Regions from separate parts of the Homo sapiens genome. Here region 2 is linked to region 1. Evidence: fine-mapped QTL for protein levels in blood plasma. A gene starts in region 1. The other region holds a variant in brackets. All regions are shown on one strand. Distances are from middle to middle.

Evidence for each region. PIP is the chance, under the fine-mapping model, that this variant and not a neighbour inherited with it causes the effect. The UK Biobank Pharma Proteomics Project read protein levels with antibody pairs (Olink). The fine-mapping took linkage between variants from a reference panel, not from the people measured, so its PIPs are less certain.
Region 2: its variant is fine-mapped to the plasma level of the SUSD5 protein (UK Biobank, PIP above 0.99). The variant lies in the coding sequence of SUSD5. If it changes the protein, the assay may bind it differently, which can mimic a change of level.

The regions. Positions count from the first base shown.
Region 1 is chr3:33,214,500-33,224,678 of GRCh38, forward strand. SUSD5 (sushi domain containing 5) reads right to left here and starts at 4,311. Exons shown (of 5, transcript NM_015551.2): 1 at 4,187-4,311. The coding sequence starts at 4,298.
Region 2 is chr3:33,148,032-33,158,210 of GRCh38, forward strand. SUSD5 (sushi domain containing 5) reads right to left here. Exons shown (of 5, transcript NM_015551.2): 5 at 2,012-6,002. The coding sequence ends at 4,711. Among named protein-coding and RNA genes, the nearest start is that of CRTAP, 39 kb to the left of the region's middle. RefSeq lists an enhancer at 4,784-5,983. The variant G/T (reference allele first, on the strand shown) is at 4,981.

The DNA of each region.
Region 1 (10,179 bases):
TGCCTCCCTCAGCCCTAGGATGACCCCCTATACAACAGGTTGCTTCCCTTCTCTCTGTCCCTTGCCTTAAGATATTACCAGGCCCCTTTCACAATAAATTCATTTGTGTCTGCTGTACTTCTGTCCTACTGCACAAGAAAACAGGGATGATGTCTGGTACACCTTGGCTTCCTATAGCACATTAATATATGGACATGTAGTGGGCCTCAAAGAATGTGTGATTAATGGGGGGATGGGAACCTGAATTCAAGCAGAGGTGAAAGCCCAGGCTGAAGGCAAATGAGAATTTTAAGCAAGGAAACCACGGTACCGGAGGGAGCACTGAGGTCCCCAGGAGCCTCCTGGAGGAATGAAGCAATGCCTTGGGTGGCCCTATCAAGTTAAGCTAAAGGCAGGGGAGAAAACACCTACTTAGAATGAGACACTTTACTTCCATCTGTCACCAACTTTTTCATAATATATCAGTGATTGGACTAAGACACAACTAAGACACAAGTCATCTGCTTGCAAAAGACTAAGACACAAGTCATCTACTTGCAAAATTATTATAATAAATATAATAATTCCACAGCTTTGGAACCAAAAGTTATAATAAAAATACAAAAAAAAATTTTAAATAAACACTTCCATAGGTGACTGGCACTCCTACATTTAACTACAAAAAGGTAGTATTAACAAAACTACAAGGAAAAACAAAAAAATCCACAATCCTTGAGGAAATTTTAAACTACTATCCCTCTCAGTAATTGTTAAAACAGAAAACAAAATTAGCACTCTTGATGTAAGAACCTATGTGCACTACTGCATACCAAACTACAGAATACACATTCATTTTAGGCACACACAGAACATTTGTAAAACTGATCAAATACTGAGCTATAAAGCAAATCTAAAAAAACCTCAAAAGACAAAAATCATACAAAGCATGCCTTTTAGACTACAACAAAGCTAAAATCACTTATTTTATATATGAAACACTTATATAGTGTTTACTATGGACTAGATGTTGTTCAAATTGCTTTACAAATACTCATTAAATTAATTCTTATGACAACTCTATGATATAGGTGGTATTATCATCCTCATTTTATAGTTAAGGTTTAGTATTAATGCTTGTCCGAGATCACACAGCAGAGATACAGAACCAGGCAGTATGGCTCCGTTAGTGATTTTAATCACTTGGTTATACTGCCTCTCAATAACAAAGCAATAACTAGGAAAATCCCCTTGTGCATGGAAATTACAAAATATACTTCTAAATAAACTGTGTTCAAAGAAGAAATCCCAACTGAAATAAAACATGTCAACTCAAGGGCCAAAAACTTATGGAGAAACTAAAGTAGTTTAAGAGAAATTTATAGCCTCAGATCTCACATTATTAATACCAAAAAAGTATGGTTGAGAATCAATGATCTAAGTTTCTAGCTCAAAAAACAAACACAAAAGTCCCACAAAATCAAATCTTCTAACGTAGAAGGAGGAAATAATACAGATAGAGCAGAAATCAGTAAAACGGAAAGCAGACACACAATCAAGAAAATAAAGCCAAAAGTTGCTTTTTTCAAATGAATAATAAAACGGATAAACCCCTACTAAGACTGATCAAGACAAAAAAAGAGAAAACACAAAGTACCAATATCAAGAATGAAAGGGAACATCACTACAGATCCCGTGGACCCTGAAATGATAATTAGAGATTATTACATTGTATATGCCACATTAGACAATCTAAATGAAGTGGGGGAAAAACTTTAAAAAATAAAACTTAGCAACATTGACACAAAATTAATTTTAAAATCTGAATACTTCTTTATCTACCAAACAAATTAAATTCATTATTTAAAATCTTCCTACAAGAAAACCTTCAGACACAGATGATCTCACACCAAAACAAACAAACAAAAGCCCTCACCCGCAGAAACCCTTTCAGAGTTAAAGAAGGAGCAACTTTACAATTTGGTTTAGGAACCATCATACGTTTGATATCAACACTTGGCAAAGATATTATAAAAAATGAAAATTACAGGCTAATATGTTTCATAAACATAGATTCAATAATCCCAAACCAGCTTCCCTCACTCCAGGCTCAGTTCTAGGTCTTCTTGCTGTAAAATTTTTCCTTAGGATTCTGCCCACGCACATGATTTCAAAGACCATCCTTATACAGATGACACGTTTTTAGAAATAGTTTCTCTCCAAATCTATCTCTTCAAACATCTGTAATTCATCATACTTAAGCTGAGCATTTCTTCTTCTTCCTCCCGTCACCATAGCACACAAATAACTAAATGTAGGAACTGGTGGCAGCTAAGAATTTAGTACCAAAAAGAATCCTTTGATAATATAGCTTATAACTCTTCCTGGTTCTAGTATAAAAGTTGGAGCTCATAAAATTGAGTTTACTATAAGGAAGTATACCTATAATTGTCCACTGAGGAAGTGGGGAAAGAAAAGGAAGGAGAATGAAGAAAAGGAATCATTTCTGGCAAGCAGTAACAAAGAATCATGTGCTCTGGTGTTGTCCTTACTTTCTCTTTGACCAGTGACATTTCTGCCTTTAATTTTCTATGACCCGTATCAAGCTAGACAGGCACAAAATATTGATCCTTATCCACATGGCATTCCACTTAAACAGTTATAATGGGATGAAACTCTAAAACCTTATGGATTGCAAAAATATTTATTTAAAAGGAATTAAAGTTGGCACAATATATCTTGTTCAAAGATTAATATTAGCTCCAATTTATTCTACTTGCATTCTTTAAAATCAGCTTAATTTTCATGGCTCAATGTCAGTCAAAAAACACTACAGTGAAGAATTATCAGTAAACTGCTAATAGGTATGGGATTCTTTTGAGGAGTGATGGAAATGTTCTGGAATTAGATGCATGCAAACCATGGTTTTCACAACCTAATGAATATACTAAAACCCACTTAACTGTATATTTTAAAATGACAAATTTTATGTGAAATACATGTCAATTAAAAAAATTAGCAGTGGTTACTAACAGCCTTCAAAGTTAAAAATGTTTTGTCTCTAACACTCTCTCTGAGGATATGGAGAAATACGACATTCATCCTTAATTAGGAACGGAGAGCTTTTCAAGCCTGCACTTAAAACAGAGAGCACTAAAAACTCTACGACCTAGACGGTTTTTTCCTTGGCTTTCCCCTTTTCCTGACAACCATGCTTTTTTTTTTTTTCCCCATGTCTTCTAGTTTCACTCAATATCGTTGGCTAAACAAGAATCACATTTTAAAATATACAACGCATCCTAAATTGACGGAGGGCTTTTCTCTTTTATCAGTCTAATTCGTCCTAAGCTAGAACTACCTCATGGGTGTGAGAACTGCTGGCTTTAAGCTTGCTTCCTTCAGATGCTCCTGTACCAAGTCAGCGGGATTTTGTTCTAATATGAAAACACAGCTGAATTAGCTTTTCAAAAGGGAATGGATACAGAGCTCCAATCCTGCTCATTTTAGGGCAAGTATTACAAGCTAAATTCAGGCTGAAAAACCAAGCAAACGAACAAGAAGTGGATCAATTCTCAGAGAACCTGCCATAATCTGGCCCTTGCCCACTTCTCTACCTCATGTCTCAAGACGTCCCCTCGCCTCCAGGTACTTTGCTTTATCATTTGTCCCGTTTTTCCTGTCACTCAGAGACAGCCTTTGCACGTGCTTTTCCCTCTGGCCAGGCCATTCTCTCTCTCTTAGCCTCGCTGATTCCCACTCATCTTTCACGTCTTCCCGGACCAAGCCAAAATATCCGAGGGAGTTTTCTAACCATCGGCGGTGTCCTCAGGGGCACATTAATAGACGTTGAGAAACTGAGGGACGGCGGAAAATCACCCCTTAGCAGAGGAGGTTCTAGGGCACCTTAGAGGTGATTTCATTCGAGCTTTCTTGGAGACCTTAGGAAAGCCAGCGGCGGGACTGCGGGACCTACGCGCTCGGCGCTAAGGGAGGGTCCAGGCACCAGGCGGGCGTTTGGGCGCACGGGCACGCGGAGACTTGGTGGGCCAGGAGAGGGATGCTGGGTCGCAGGACCGCGGCTCGTTCGTTCCTCTCAGGCTTGCGCTTGCCGCTTGCCGGGCCGGTCAGAGGGAGCAGCCCCGGCGAGCTACGCCCTCCCTGCCCGGACCCCACGCTCCACCCCCCGCCCCGCCGCCTCCCGCACACTCACCATCCGCCCGCACCGAAAGGCGCGGCAGACCGAGCAGGAGCAGCGCCGCCGCCCAGAGCCCGGGGAGGCGTCTGTGCCAACGGGCAGGCGGGCTGGGTCCCTCGGCAGTCATGGTCCGGGAGTGCGCGGGCCAGCGGACTCGGGTGAGGGCTCTGGCTGCGTTTGGGGTTGCCCAGGCCACTGCCCAGCGTGCGCCACTCGGCTCTGCGCTCTGCGCTCGGCTCACGAATCGCAGGCTTCGCGCCGGGCGCGCCGAGAGGGAGGAGCGCGGAGAGCCGGGGGAGGCTCGGGACGCAGAGCCGGAGCGCCTGGGCCGCCGAACTCCCGGGGGTCTTCTCTGTGGCGCCGAGGAGGCGGCTGTAACCCGGCTCCGCCTTCGCGCTGGGCACCTGGAAACCTCGGTGCCAAAAGGGGCTGCGCTGGGCCGCGCGCTCTGCGGGTACAGCGGGGCGGAGGGCGAGGGCGCAGGGAGGCGGGGAGAGTAGCTAGCCGGCCGCAAGGAGCCCCCGCCCGTCTGGGGGACCCTTGGCGAGAGGGTGACGCAGTCTGACAGGCGGAGCCCCTCCGGCAGGGCCGTTAGACAACGAGTGTCTAACTCTGTCCTCGGCCTCTACTTTTCAACTGGCCTCCTCCCCCTCCCCACCAACACTCTTTTTTTTTTTTTTTTTTAATGAAGAGAGGAAAATCTAAGTTACCTACCACCCTCACTCTAAGGTGTGAAACGCATGGAATAGCGAAATTCCTCTTTCCTAAAAGCGAAGTTTGAGAGTCACTGAGGAAAGGATATCTTCAGGAACGCTTCCTTCACCACTTTTCCTGGTACGCTAGTATTTCTCAAGGAGCAGTAAGAGGGCTAGTGAGATTGTCACCATTATCACCCACCTCCCAAATCAGGGCTTTTTGACCTCGAAAGGGTCTGAGATTCGGACTCTGTCGGTCTGGTCTGGGAATCTACACTCTAAGTTAAAGTGTCCCAATGGATTCTGCTGCAGGGGTCCCTGTTTGACTTGATTCCTTCTTCCTGCTCGCCCCTAGCCTGTCTCCCTACCACCAGCCCTGTTCAGTGAAAGAAGAACTTGCTTTCTTCATAGGTAGAGTAATAAAGATCAGTATTGTTATAACTGAGGCATGCGCGGTGCTCTACAATTTGCAAATCCCTTTTATATTGATGTATGGGTCAACAAACATCTATTGAGTGCCCATACATGCCTGTCCCTGTGCTAGACCCTGAATGTGGCTGCAATCGGTCCTAAAAATGTTCACACTTAAATAAAATATACTTACAATTGAAAAAGTGATTGGTGCTAAAGGGGCAGATGATTATCCTCATTTAATGAACCAGGACACAGACATTGAAATAATTTACTTTCTTTTCACAGTAAGAACTTGGATTTGAATCCACATCTGATTTACTACAGGTGTCATTTTTCAGCTTGCATTAATTGTTGAAATGTACTGAAAAGATTTCTTCTCTCCTTATTACTTCCCATCAACTACAAGGGCTACTATTAATGAGTAATTATTTTGGATAATTAAACTTTGCTTTCAAAATACAAATACTGGCCGGACACGGTTGCCCAGGCCTGTAATCCAAGCACTTTGGGAGGCGGAGGCCGACCAATCACCTGAGATCAGGAGTTGGAGACCAGCCTGGCCAACATGGTGAAATTTCCATCTTTACAAAAATACAAAAATTAGCCGGGCGTGGTAGCTGTTAATGCAGTGAGGTGTTAAATGCAGTGAGGCCTGACAAGTATAAATGAATTTACTTAGCTCCTTCCCTTTTTTTTTTTTTTTTTTTTTTTTTTGAGATAGAGTCTCGCTCTGTTGCCAGGCTGGAGTACCGTGGAGCGATCTTGACTCACTGTAACCTCAGCCTCCCAGGTTCAAGCGATTCTCCTGCCTCAGCCTCCCGAGTAGTTGGGACTACAGGCGTGCACCACCACGCCCAGCTAATTTTTGTATTTTTAGTAGAGACGGGGTTTCACCATGTTGGCCAGATGGTCTCGATCTCTTAACCTCGTGATCCGCCGGCCTCGGCCTCCCAAAGTGCTGGGATTACAGGCATGAGCCACCACACCCGGCCAGCTCCTTCCCTTTTAACAGTTAGCTGGTAACCTAAGGAGTGAGACTTCACATGTCTGGACTGGAGGGGTCATTTTAAAGCCTGGTTAGTGCTGAGAACGGAGGGGAGGGATCAGAAGGTACCTGCCAAGAGCTACCAACTCACTCACTCAGGAGCTTTGCCTAGGAACATTTTAAAAACAGTCAATTGAATATTACTACTTAATTCTCCTAACATTTTCAAGATTATGCTTATTCACAATTGTCTTGGCCTGTCCTGATGTGAGGAGATGGCATGCTGTAAGGGTAATTGGTATGGTTGCTTTAGAAAACCGGCTGTTCCATCTAAACATATACCTGCCTTAGGACCCAGAAATTCCTCTCCTAGGATTATATCCAAAAGAATGAGAACCTATATTCACAAAAATATTTGTGCACAACTGTTCATAGCAGCTTTATTTGCAATGATCAAAAACTAGAAGGAATTCGGATATCATCAACAGATGAATAGAAAAACAAACTGTCATATTCACACAATAGAATACTATTCGACAACAGGAATGAACTACTGAATGAACTACTCAACACGTGAAAGAATCTCAAGGATAGCATACAGAGTGAAAGAAGTCTTACACAAAACAATTCATACTGTGTAATTCCATTTATATGAAGTTCAAGACAGGACAAAACTAATCTGTGGTGAAAACAGTCAACACAGTGGTTGCCTTTGATAGAACGGGAACACAAGGGAACATCTGAAGTGATGAAAATGTTCTATTCCTGATGGGGATGGTGGTCACATGAGTGTATATGTTTGTCAAACATCCCTAAACTGTACACTTGAAATCTTTGTATTTAATTGAATACTTATACTTCAGTAACAAATACTTTAAAAATCAGAATTTCAGTCCTTGCACTAAAAAATAAAGAAGGTTTAATAGAAGGCCAAGTGCGGTGGCTCACGCCTCTAATCCCAGCACTTTGGGAAGTGGGTGGATCACGAGGTCAGGAGATTGAGACCATCTTGGCTAACACAGTGAAACCCCATCTCTACTAAAAATACAAAAAATTAGCCAGGCGTGGTGGCACGTGCCTGTAGTCGCAGTTACTTGGGAGGCTGAGGCAGGAGAATTGCTTGACCTTCGGAGGCGGACATTGCAGTGAGCCAAGATTGTGCCACTGCACTCCAACCTGGGCGACAGAGCAAGACTCTGTCTTTAAAAAAAAAAAAAAAAAGTTTAATAGAAGAGAGTTTGATGAAAGGACCACATGCAGTGATGTGGACAGGACCGAGAGAACCAATAAGGGGTGGTGAAACTCCTGGGTCTAGCAACAGCTGGAAGCTGTAGCCATGGTGAGGCCTGAAGGTGTGAGGGAAGGTTGAGGTGTTACCAAACCAGCAACAGCTGTGGCCATGAAAGAGGCCGCCTGAAAAAAAGGATACCCATAGGTAGAAAAATCAAGATGCTGCCACTGGTCTGGTAGGGAGGGAGTGAGGAAGAAAGACCCTGACCTCTCTCTCCTTCTATCCTTGATATTCCTCTTGATACCTTCTATTGGCTGAACCATTTAAAAGCTAAAGGGTAAAGAAGCACAGGTGCAGTGGTCCTTAGAAGTCACCTTGTTAGGGTGCAGGGTTGGACAAAGAAGGTTAAAGAGTGGATCTGGAATGGCAAATGGGAAACAACCAGCACAGCTCATCTACTTTTTTCTTTCATTTGATTAAGAATAACTAGAAATAAAACAGGAGAAACACAAAATCCTGTCAGTCCTCTCTTGTATGACCTGGGAATAATGTCAACTCAGTCAAATTTCCACTTGGAGCTAAACTGTGATATTAACCATCAGTGGTTACATTCACATAAATACAGTTTCACATAAACAGAAAAGGGGAGAAGTAAACAGTTGTCACAAAATATAGATTCTACTGTCCCCACTTCTGTAACTGGTCATGAGGCCTTATTTGACAATCATTCCAATGTTTCCCTCTACTCTCTGAGCATTTTGGCCTGCATGAATTTTTTTTTAACTGATGACAGGGGCCTAAAATTTCATTCCCGCCAAAGACTTATCTTTATTAGTTTGCCAGTGACCATAATTATTGGATATGGGAGTCCTCTGAGGTCTAGACATAGTCATCCCATTATGAAGCAGGAATCCAATTTCCCCTTGGTAATCAGGTAATCAGGATCCATCACCCAGTCAGTAAACTAACCTTCTTTTCTGCCTCTTGGTTCTTCAACATGAGGACTACAAAATTACAAGAGAAAAGTCTCAGCTTCCAATTGACAAGGAAGCATTTCTGTCGTGGGCACCCAAACCTCCCAACTCACCAATCTTTTTTTTTCTTTCTTTTTTCATCCACTACTAAGAGTTGTATCCCAACTCACCAATCTAAAGGATGTGGGGATATTATGCAAAACTTTGCTAGATGGGTTACTATATGTAATAGAGAGGTCCCACTTTGACCTTGGTCCTTAAACCAGTCTCTTATGTCTATGAGAGAAATTACACCACATATTGGCTACTGGTTTAAGGCATATATTGTAACCGGAGTGAATGTCCCAAATTCCCGGGGTGCTGTCTTCTAGCTAGTACCTTAACTGTGACTTATCTTTCTGTCAAGCCACATGCTTCTAGGTAAATATCATGAAATGAGTCTATTGCCCCACCGATTTCTACAAAATCAGTTTCTTGATTAGAGATGATGTAATGTGTGCTGCTATGGCCATGGGTGAGAAGACATTCTATATACATCTACATATAGTGGTGCTAGTAGAAGAAAGCCAGACAAAGAAGGCAAAGTCAGATTTAGGATAAGAATTTATTTCAACAAATACAGCAAGAAAATAAAAGAATTTATTCCAATAAGGACAAATAACTGCAGTCTCTATGAAAAAAAAATCCAATTTAAATAACCTTTCTCTACGTAGTCAACAGGAGAGGCTGGCTAGGGAATAATGCCATATGAAGACTCACGGTGCACTCTCTCTCTCTCTCCCTCTTTCTCTCTCTCTCTCTACACACACACACACACACACACACACACACACACACACACACACGCTGTGCCCATCCCAGGAGAACCACACTGACATCCTTGCTATCAGTCTCCTAGTTCTGAACTTTTCAAGTCATTAACTGATGATTAGGCATTGTCCATAAATCAGTGAAGATCCATAAATGAAGCCATCTCTCCTTTCATGTAAACCAAAGCTCCACCCATTGGGAGGATTCTCTTTTGCTAGTTTTTACTTTTCAATAGAAAAATGTTACTCTAATAAAATATACATAGCATTTATTATTGTGACCATTTTAAGTATACAAATCAGTGGCCTTAAGAACATTTACATTGTTGTGAAACCGTCACCACCGGCCACCTCCAAGTTTTTCATCATCTCAAACGGAAACTCTGTACCCGTTAAACAATAACTCCCTATTCCCTCCTCCCTCTAGCAGCCAGTAACCACTGTTCCACTTTCTGTCTCTATGAATTTGACTATTCTACGTACCTTATATATGTGGAATCACATAATATTTGTCTTTTCATGCCACTGTTGTTTTTAGTGCTATACCAGTGTGAGGCTAACTAGTCCTACCCCATAGACATCCAAGCATAAAGCAGGTTCAAGTTTTTTCTCTTCCATTAAGTAAAACTCCCCATGAGGCCATAGGTGTGGGTTGAGGGAAAGGCAGTAAAGCAGTGGAAGCAAGTGCCATAGGAGTCTAAGCCTCTTGCTCATGTGATTTACATGTTCATTCCGAGCCTACTCTTGTATGTACCATTTTCATTTGATAGTAGAATTCTGCTTTGTGATTCAAAATACCTCATTCACGAGACCAACTAAGGCGTCACACTCATGCGGTGTCTTGTGGTCAAGCAGTCAATCTCTACCAGGGCCAGTAGCAAGGTTGGAAGTGCTTATCGT
Region 2 (10,179 bases), 66 kb before region 1:
CTGGAATCCCACTAGGAAAAACATTTGGAATCTGTTTCAAACAGGGACACAAAGCATCTTCAGGCATGACTGTCAACAGCAACTATGCTCCATGCATGCCACTAAAGGGCAGGCAGGAGAAAGAAGAGTAGAAGGAAGCAGGTGGAAAGAGTGAGGAACCAGCCAGCACAAAAAGAAGTCCACGTTATGGAGAGTTGAAACAGCTGTCTGAAGAAGAGGTGGAGGACATGGAGGTCAGCCCAAGAATTCCAGAGGTTATGGTGAAAAAATCTGGACTGAGGAGAGGAGGTGTAGGGAGTAAGAGTTGAGTGTTGATGGATGTCTTAGGTCAGGATCCTTTGAAGCAAGGGAAGTGATGGGGTGCTCTCAAGAGAAGGGGTGTGAGAGAAGCAGGAAGGAGCCAGTAAGGATGTGTCTTCAGTTGGAGACTGACTTCAGCTTGATCTCATGGGAGCTCTGGAGCATGAATCATATCGGAGTTGGTCCCACCTTGAGGAAAGGAGGCCAGCCTTTTGCATTCCCATGACAGCTGGTCATTGGTTATAGGCTGCCCTAGCAGAGTATACCGTGGTCTAACTTCCTGGGTGAGGGAACTCTCAATAGGCCAAGGGCAATTCTCTGCGTTGGAAGGGTACACTTACGTGCTTATGAGCATTTTAACAGCCAACACTCAGGGCAGCTGGAAGACAGGTTCACCTACCTAGCAAAGGGGACCTGGGAGGGGCATCAACAATGTCCACAACATTGGAAGGCTTGGGAGGCATGGATCTGTGGTGGTCATGGATGTAAAAATGGACATAAGGCAGATGGGATTGGTGCTGATGGCGTCTGAGCTGGATTTGCTAGCTGCCCTTCCGTATCTCTTCCAACATGCCCCTCCAACATGCCCGGTGTCCCAGAAGCCTGACCTCTATGGTTCCATTGCCTGGGCTTCTTCACCCTCTGATTTCCAGTTGCCACTGGGACATGCCAACAAGAGATGGCAGGGTGAGACAAGGTCTGGTTCCTTAAAATCTTTGCTTCCTCCAGGCCACAGTTGGACACTGGCTGCATTCTCTTTGAGGCCAGAGCCCTTGTCCTGCAGGGCCTTTCCTATTACTGAGCTCTTGTTGGGTTCCATAACAGGTCCCCACCATCCCCTGATGGTTCCCCTAACTTTCCCCACACCTTTGTGAACAGTCCCTTCAGCTAACCCTCTAATTACTCCTTTGAGTGTCCTGTGAGTTAGGAGAAAGGGGATAATCAGTTCTCTCTTAGGCCAGTGCTTCTCAAGCTTTACCATTCATGCCCACCACCTGGGCATCCTGTTAGATGCAGATCCTGATTCAGCAGTCCTGGGGCAGGGCCTGAGATTCTGTACTTCTAACAAGCTCGCAGTGCCTGTGCTGCTGGGGCAGGAGCCACACTTTGAATAGCGAGGTCCCGGGTGTTTCGTTGCAGTGAAGTAAGTGGTCTCTGGTTGGGGCAAGGAAGAGGGAAGTAGGGGGGGGCGGGGCAAGGAAGAGGGAAGTAGGGAGGGAGGGGGGGGCAAGAGTGCCACCAACTTCCCTAAAATCCTGCTGCAGGAGGTAACATAACTGAGAGTTAGGTTTAGAAAGGGCAGTCTTAGATCTTAGATATAGCAAGTATTAAGACATTATTTTCAAGATTACTAGAGATTTTTTTTTTGAATGGAGCCTTGCTCTGTCCCCCACGCTGGAGTGCAGTGGCATGATCTCAGCTCACTGCAACCTCTGCCTCCCGGGTTCAAGCAATTCTCCTGCCTGATCCTCCTGGGTAGCTGGTACCACAAGCATGCTATCACGCCCGGCTAATTTTTGTATTTTTAGTACAGAAAAGATTTCACCATGTTGGCCAGGCTGGTCTCGAACTCATGACCTCAAGTGATCTGCCTACCTCAGCCTCCCAAAGTGCTGGGATTACCAGTGTGAGCCACTGTGCCCAGCGAGAATTTTTTTCTTTTTTTAAACCTTGGTGCAGTAGCCTAGAAATAAAATACATTCAGCAACTGTTGGGGCAATAATTATTTATTTTAAATATCTCAGAAGCTTTGTGTTAATAGAACCCCCTCCCCCAATTTTCATGAGCATTAAACATTCACCATTCTCAAAACATGCATGACATACAATTTAGATTTACATTGTTTTAATCATTCCCTTTCAACATGAATTTTTAGATTCTATAACATTAATTTAGAGGATACCACACCAATAAGAACTTAAAAACTGATGTGTTGGGTTTATTTCACAGTCCATGTCTACAAATAAAACATTTACCTGTATTAATAATTTGTAATAAATTTATTAATACACTGTATTAATAATTTGTAATAAATTTATTAATACACTGTATTAATATTGCCTATTTGTTGGTATAAATCCAATGTTCTGGGTTATTCCACAATAATAGTTGCTAACACAGTCCCAATGCTGAGACAGAGGTTATTTTATATAGTTAAAAATAGAAAAGTTATCTTGCAGTAGATTAGGATCTAATTTATAAATATATACAGTCTCTGGCTTTTATTCTATTATGTTTTGCTTTGGCTACATGCAGAAAGCATTTTATTCCTATTGTTCTTGACTTCGTCTGATGCACAGGTATTCTAGTTGGTACCTTCAGGCTTTATTTTACCCAACTATGGGGAATAAGATCTTTGATTATGCTGCCTCTCTTTACAGCTACTTCGCCTATTACTTTTCCAAAGCTTGCTGAAAAGAGGTGGCAGGGTAGAAAACATGTTGCGAATGTTTTTTTTCCTTAGGTAAAACACCACCAACAATTTTTCAATCATAAAAAAGATCAGGATTTCCCTCTACCACACAAAAACACTTAGACTGCTATGGTGTCTCAAAATAAATGTGTTGCATTCATCACTTTTTACCACTGATAACTATTTCTAAGAAGGTGATTCATATTAGAAAAATATAACATGTTTCATTTCTGTGCCAACATACAGGAGACTATTGCAGGTGGCATTTAGGCAGCTTCAAATGCCACCTCAGCTGCACACAGCCATGCCTGACTTCCACACAACACACACCACATACTCATCTGTGCCTTTAGGGCTTCAGCTGGCCTCGAAGTTCACATTTGAGATTATTATAAACCAACAGGCTCTCAAACTTGAGTGCATATCAAAATCACCTGGAGGGCTTGTTAAAAACAGAACTGGGCCCTACTCCCAGGGTTCCTGTTTCCTGAGTCCAGGGTGGGACTAGAGAATTTGCATCTCCAACAAATTCCCAGGTGACGCTGATGCTACTGGTCTGAGGACCACACTTTGAGAACCACTGCCATAAACCATCCTCGCTGAGCCACCCTAAGATGATTTAGATGCTACGAAATGGGTTACCCAACAGACAGGATGGATTCTGTTTCCACAGAGCTCCCAGTTTCCACACTAGAGAACAGATCAGCACAGATCATTTCATATTCTTTCACAGATTCTTCTGCTTCTCCATCAAGTATGTGCCCATACTTGATAACCTGGTGTTCGGCCCTCTGAAAACATTTCTTTTTTTTTTCTCCCGTGTCATTCTCTCTTACTGGAGTTCAGAGAAATGGTTAATCCTGAGAGAGGAAACCAAGGACTGAGTTTTGTTAGTCCTGGCAAAAATTCCAAGACATTCCTAGGCACAGACTGGTCAAGGACAACTAGGCCACTGCTTCTGAGAGGAAATGGTACTTACTGGTACAAAGCTAACTTTGTTTTTAAAAAATAATGGCAAATCCTTAACCATGAAATATTGAAAATAAAATAAAATAAATGACAGACTGTCCCACAGAATGGAGGGAACAGAGGGGGATGTGTGTTTCTTCACTCCTCAACTCCCCCAACAAAATGTCAGTCTTAAATTCTAATTTCAAGAAACAATGAAAAAAGAAACCTCAAAGCTTCTAGACTGTGTCCTGGCTCTTGGTTCATCTGCCCTCAGCAACATCACAACATTAAAAGGAAACAACCCATTATTCTTCCATATTCCTCTCCCAATAATTCAATATCCATGTCCTAGATAATACTGCTCTCATACACTTGGTTTATCATGACTATTTATAAAATTTCAGGGCATGAAGCTGGTGATTTTCTTTCTTCAAAAAGGTAATACTGTGATGTGGCTCACACCTGGAATCCTAGCACTTTGGGAGGCTAAGGAGGGCAGATCACTTGAGGTCAGGAGTTCTTGACCAGCCTGGCCAACATGGTGAAACTCCATCTCTACTAAAAATATAAAAAAATTAGCTGGGCATGGTGGTGCATGCCTGTAATCCCACCTACTTGGGAGGCTGAGGCAGGAGAATTGCTTGAACTTGGGAGGCAGAGGTTGCAGTGAGCTCAGATCGGGACACTGCACTCCAGCCTGGGCAACAGCATGAGACTCTGTCTCAAAAAAAAAAAGATAATACTGTGATGAAGGAAGAGGCGATTTTTGACCTCACACTGGAAACAGGGCCCAAGCACAGGTCTGGGATTAGTGTAGTCAATTCCAGGGCAGATGGTGGAGGAGACATTGACATGAGTGATGATGTCACCAAAGCCTCCCTGCCCTCCCAGGTGCTCCAGAGACACTTCTCAGCCTATAAAACAAAGGGCTGAGGAAAAAATGATGAGCCTCAGTCCACCTGCGTCATGCTCTAGTGAATTATCGTGTGATGTGTCACAGTTATTTTCCTCCCAAGTGGCTTTGGGAGAACCCACTCCAAAGGTGCCTAGACCTTCTCCATCTCGATCTGCTGGTGGTAGTGCCGAGCCTGCCGCTGGCCAACATTCAGCTTGTACACAGAGCTCTTGTGCTGGCACTTGCGGTAGCCCCACACCATCCCCACACCTGCCAGGAGCAGCAGTAGGCACAGGACGGTGACAATGGTGGCGATCACAGGGCCTCTGCTGAGGCCAGGACATCCGTCCCCCACACACGACTCCAAGGTGGGATGAAGCTCCTCACTTGCACCTGGCCCGGGGCCTTCCTGTCCAAAGAA[G/T]TCTTCAGACAGCAGGTATGGGAAGCTATCCTGGATCTCAGGAACAGTGGTTTCTACTGGAGGCTGGGTGGTTGCCATGATCGTTGAGGGGATGTGGTTAGGTGTCTGCTTGACAGTGTTCACTGTTAATATCTCCAGGGTGGAGCTGGTGAGCTCATAGGACAGGGTGGCCATGGGAGATTCCTCTGTGATGAATCTCCAGGGTAGAGTTGACTGGTACTTCGTCAAGTCACCATCCCCAATGCCCTCAGTCTCGGAAGCATTCACGGGTCTGAGCGCCAAAGCTTCCACATCTAGCATTTGAGATGGAAGAACTGAACTATGGGTCATGCCCTCGCTTGGTGTGAGGGTGCTACTCTTGGGCTTCTTAACTTCCACAAGAATGGGCTGATCAGGAGTAACTAGGACGTTTTCATCCAGCCCTACTGACCCATCCCCTCTGTCCCCATCTTCTTCCTCTTCTGCCTCTGTCTTCCTCCAAGCCCCCTCTGTCACAGGGTAGCCATCTAACCAGGACTCATCACTGCTGCTCACCACTGGATCTCCTGCCTTGCTGTCATTCTTGCCCACAAATGGCCCCGAGGGACCATCAGTGTTGCCGTAGATCACCTTGGTTTCAGGTTCACCTGGGACCAATTTTACACCACTGTGGTTGTCTCCAGCAGAAAACTGCTTTTTGGTGTCATCATCCACCTCCTTTTCCAACCCAGGCTTGTGGAAAGCCTCAGCAGGAAACCAGAACAAGTGCTTCTGGAGCAGCCGTGATCCTGGTGAATCTGCGGGGACACTGCTCCCAGCACCAGGCAAGCCTGTGGTTGGCACAAAGACTTTATCCCGGGCTATGTTTTCTCTCCCCACAGAAATGGAGACCAGACGGTCCTGTTTTGGAGCCTCCTCAGAGGAGTCTCCCTGACCCCTGTCCTCATCTGCCTCTGTCCGGGAATCCTCCATGAGCTCTCTGAATGACACAGATCTGTCATCAGGGAAGTTATCTTCATAGTCAATGTGTGCCTCAGCCTCATCTGGAAGAAAAGAGGGAAAAAACCTCATTAGCTCCAAAGGCACAGAGCCAGTATAGAACATAAGAAAAGGAAATTAAAAGCATAAAGGCTGGGACAGAATAAATAATACTGTTATTATTCACAGATGATATGACTGTGTATCATAGATAAACCCAAATAATCTACATATGAATATTACAAGTAACTAAAATTTAACATCTGAGCTTAGGCCGGGCATGGTGGCTCACACTTGTAATCCCAGCACTTTGGGAGGCCTAGGCAGGTGGATCACTTGAAGCCAGGAGTTCGAGACCAGCCTGGCCAACATGGCGAATGCCCATCTCTAATAAAATACAAAAAAATAGCCAGGCATGGTGGCATATGCCTGTAATCCCAGCTACTCAGGAGGATGAGACATGAGAATCGCTTGAACCCGGAAGGCGGACGTTGCAGTGAGCCAACATCGTACCACTGCACTCCAGCCTGGGTGACAGAGTGAGACTCAAAAACAACAACAACAAAAACAACAACTCAAAAACAACAACAACAAAAAACATGTGAGTTTATTAGGGATACTAGGTCTACAGTAAATATAAACATCAATTGTATTTCTAAATATTGTCAATAAACAGAAAATTAAAATTTAAAAGGATGCTATTTACAATAACATTAAAAAAACCAAACACATAGGAATAAATCTAACAAAAGATGTTCAAGACTTCTACATGGAATGATATAAGACATTGCTAAGCAAAATTAAAGAAGACTTAAATGAATGGAGGAATAGACCATGATCATGTAGTAGAAGGCTCAAGATCATTAAGTTGGCAATTCTGTCCAAATCGATCTATACAGATCTAATACAATTCCAATAAAAATCTCAGACATTAACTGAATGTTAAAGTTTATGGAAATGCAATGGATGGAAGTTTATGGAAATGCAATGTAAGAATAGACAAGGCGATATTGAAAAAGAAAAAGCCGGAAGACATATGCAAAACATTTCAAGATTTACTATAAAACTGCATTACCTTTTAAGGCTGTGGTATTGGCACAAGGACAGATAACTGGATTACATTAAAATGAAGATCCTCTGTTCATTAAAAGCTACCACAAAGAGAGTTAAAATGCAAGGCAGAGTTAGAGAAGCTATCTGCAACACATATGACCTCCAAAGGGCTTGTATCCAGAATTTAAAAAGGACTCCCACAAATCTATACTAAGTAGACAGACAAACCATAGAAAAATTGGCAAGATAGTTGACTTGGGACATCACCAGAAAGATATCAGATTAGTCATTAAACATGTGGAAAGATGCTCAACCTCACTAGTAAGAGAGAAATGTTAATTATAGTCATAATGAGATACCACTGCATAGCACCAGAATGGCTAAAATTAAACAGACCGACAATATCAAATGTTAACTAGGATATACAGCACTGTTAGTGGGAGTGTGAACTGGAACAACCACGATGGAAAACTGGGCATCTCTACTAAAATTGAACATATGGATGCTCCATGACACAGCAATTCCACTCCTAAATATATACACTTAACAGTAATGTGTGCATATGGGTACCAAAAGACACGCCTAAGAATGTTCATAATAGTAAAAAACTGGAAGCAATTCAAATGTCCATTAACTGGTACATCAGTTATGGTATACTCAATGCAAATCTGTACATCAATAAACATGAACCAACCACTGCTTCCCACAACAAAATAGATGAATTGCATGGCCATAATGTTGAGCCAGGCACAAAAGTGCACACTCTGTGTTGATTCTATTTATATAAAGTTTAAAAACAGGCAGAATTAATCTATGGATGTCGGAACTCAGGATGGTAGTTACACTTGGGTAGGAGAGAAGGGGTGATGACTGGGTATGGTACAAACAGGACTTTTAGGGTGCTGGCAATATTCGATTTCTTCACCTGTGTCAAGGCCTAAATATCAGTGTTTATTCTTGATAATTCATTGGTTTGTTGCCTTATGATTCGTATGTATTTTATAATTAAGTTCAAAAATGCATCTTTTTTTTTTTTTGAGAGAGAGTCTCGCTCTGTCTCCTAGGCTAGAGTGCAATGGTGCAATCTAGGCTCACTGCAACCTCCGCCTCCCGGGTTCAAGCGATTCTCCTGCCTCGGCCTCCTGAGTAGCTAGGATTACAGGTGCACACCACCACACCCAGCTAATTTTGGTATTTTCAGTAGAGACAGGGTTTCACCATGTTGGCCAGGCTGGTGTCAAATTCCTGACCTTGTGATCCGCCCATCTCGGCCTCCCAAAGTGCTGGGATTACAGGCATGAGTCACCGCGCCCGGCCCCCAAATGCATCTTTTAAAACACTGATTTGCTCTCTGTAAAACTTCCAAGTCATGAGATGATGCTGTAAAGTATTCTGAATTCAACTGAATAAGAAGCAATAGAGCCCCACAACTAGGAGACCAGAATGTAAGGACAGCCCGATGAGAGGGGAATCAACTGGTCAGGAAAGCTCAAGAAGCTGGTGTCCTCAGAAGACAGCAGCAGCCCTTTGACCTTCCCCTCTCTCAATGGTCTTTGAAAGCCAAGTCCTACTGGAAGATACACTTAAATTATTAAAACAGACTGCTTCTCCCACTTAACTTTCAACTTCGGAAGAACAAAATGCACAGAGCTCCAGAGCCAAGGTCTAGATGGAATGCTGAGGTGTCATGTGGTGCATTCCTGGGCTCTGAAACTAGATTAGTGGGTATCTGGCTTATTTCTAAAGGCTGTTAGAGAATAAGACTCTGTATCTTGCTTATTTAATGACTGACAGAGTTATAAATAAAAGTTAACAATCTTTTCTGATCTGCTCCTGACATGTAAGCCCATTCACTTTACATGTGTCCTCAGTCAGAAAAGGGAAACAGTGGATGAAGAGCAAACATCACTGACAAATATCAAATGCATGCGTGTTTTATGCTTAGAAAAGGACAGCCCAATCACACCCCATTGTGTCCTGTTCATAAAACCTCACACAAAAAACATATCAGATGGCTGGACCATTCTAATGAGCCTTGTAGAATTCACATACAGGCTCCCAGGGCTCAGTCAGGCCCTTCACATTCCCTGTTATATCCTCATTTCAAAACCTGCACTGACCCACTCCTTCATTCAACAGACCTCACTGAGTGCTGACTATGTGCTAGAGTTTGGGATCACTGGTGAACAGGATAAATACTCCCTCCCCCGTTGGAGCATATGGGACAGAATCTCATGGTCTTGCATCCTATAGGGTTGAACTTCAAAGATTTTGTGTGCATAAATTTTCACCCAACATTCTGAATGGGCGTTAGGTTTTGCATTGAAGTACTGTCCTTCCTTCAAAAAACAACAAAATGAAATGAATGCCACTATGACAGAACTTTTCACTACAATTTACCCAAAACATACAGACAAGTCACACTGAGATTTAAGAAAGTCATGACGTATATCTTTGACCTCAGGATAAGGTGGTTAGATTGCTTGTGCACATGTGTGTACTTACTGGCTGTGGAAGACAGACTGCAATAATGGCCACAAATCTCCACTTTTCCCTGCATCAAGTCCTTTTGCAATGTGACTTTGCACCTCTCTTCCTATGAAAAGATGGGGCCCATTTTTTCATCTCTAGAATCTGGGCTGACCTTGTCCCTTGTTTTGACCTACTGAACGCAATGAAAGTGTTGCATACCTTTGCTCTCTGCCTCGGAGCCCTGCCAGCTGCCATGTGAACAAACCTGGATGCTGAAGGATAAAAGACCCCATGAAGGAGAGGTAAACGTCCCAACTGAGGCCACCGTAGATTAGCCAGCTGTGGCTGACCACATTCACCTGAGTGAGCCCAGCCCAAACTGCTGACTCAAAGAACTGGAGCAGAATAAATTGTTGTTTCATGCCACTAAGTTTTTGGGGATGGTCTATTATGCAGAAAAAGCTAACTAACACACTAGCAATGAGCTGCTTGGGGAGCAGGCCCCAAGGCATTGTGTCCCTAAAGTAGAACAGTGCTTATCTACTATAGGTATTCTTATAGGTATTCTTGAGTGAGTGAAAGAATAAATGGTTCTGGAAGGAAAACAAGGAAAAGTCTGCAACAGCTCAGATCCCAAGCTTCTCTTCATTGCTACCTTAAAACTGTTCAGCACTGGGATCAGTTTCCAGGAGCACAGTCTCCCAAAACACAAGAGGA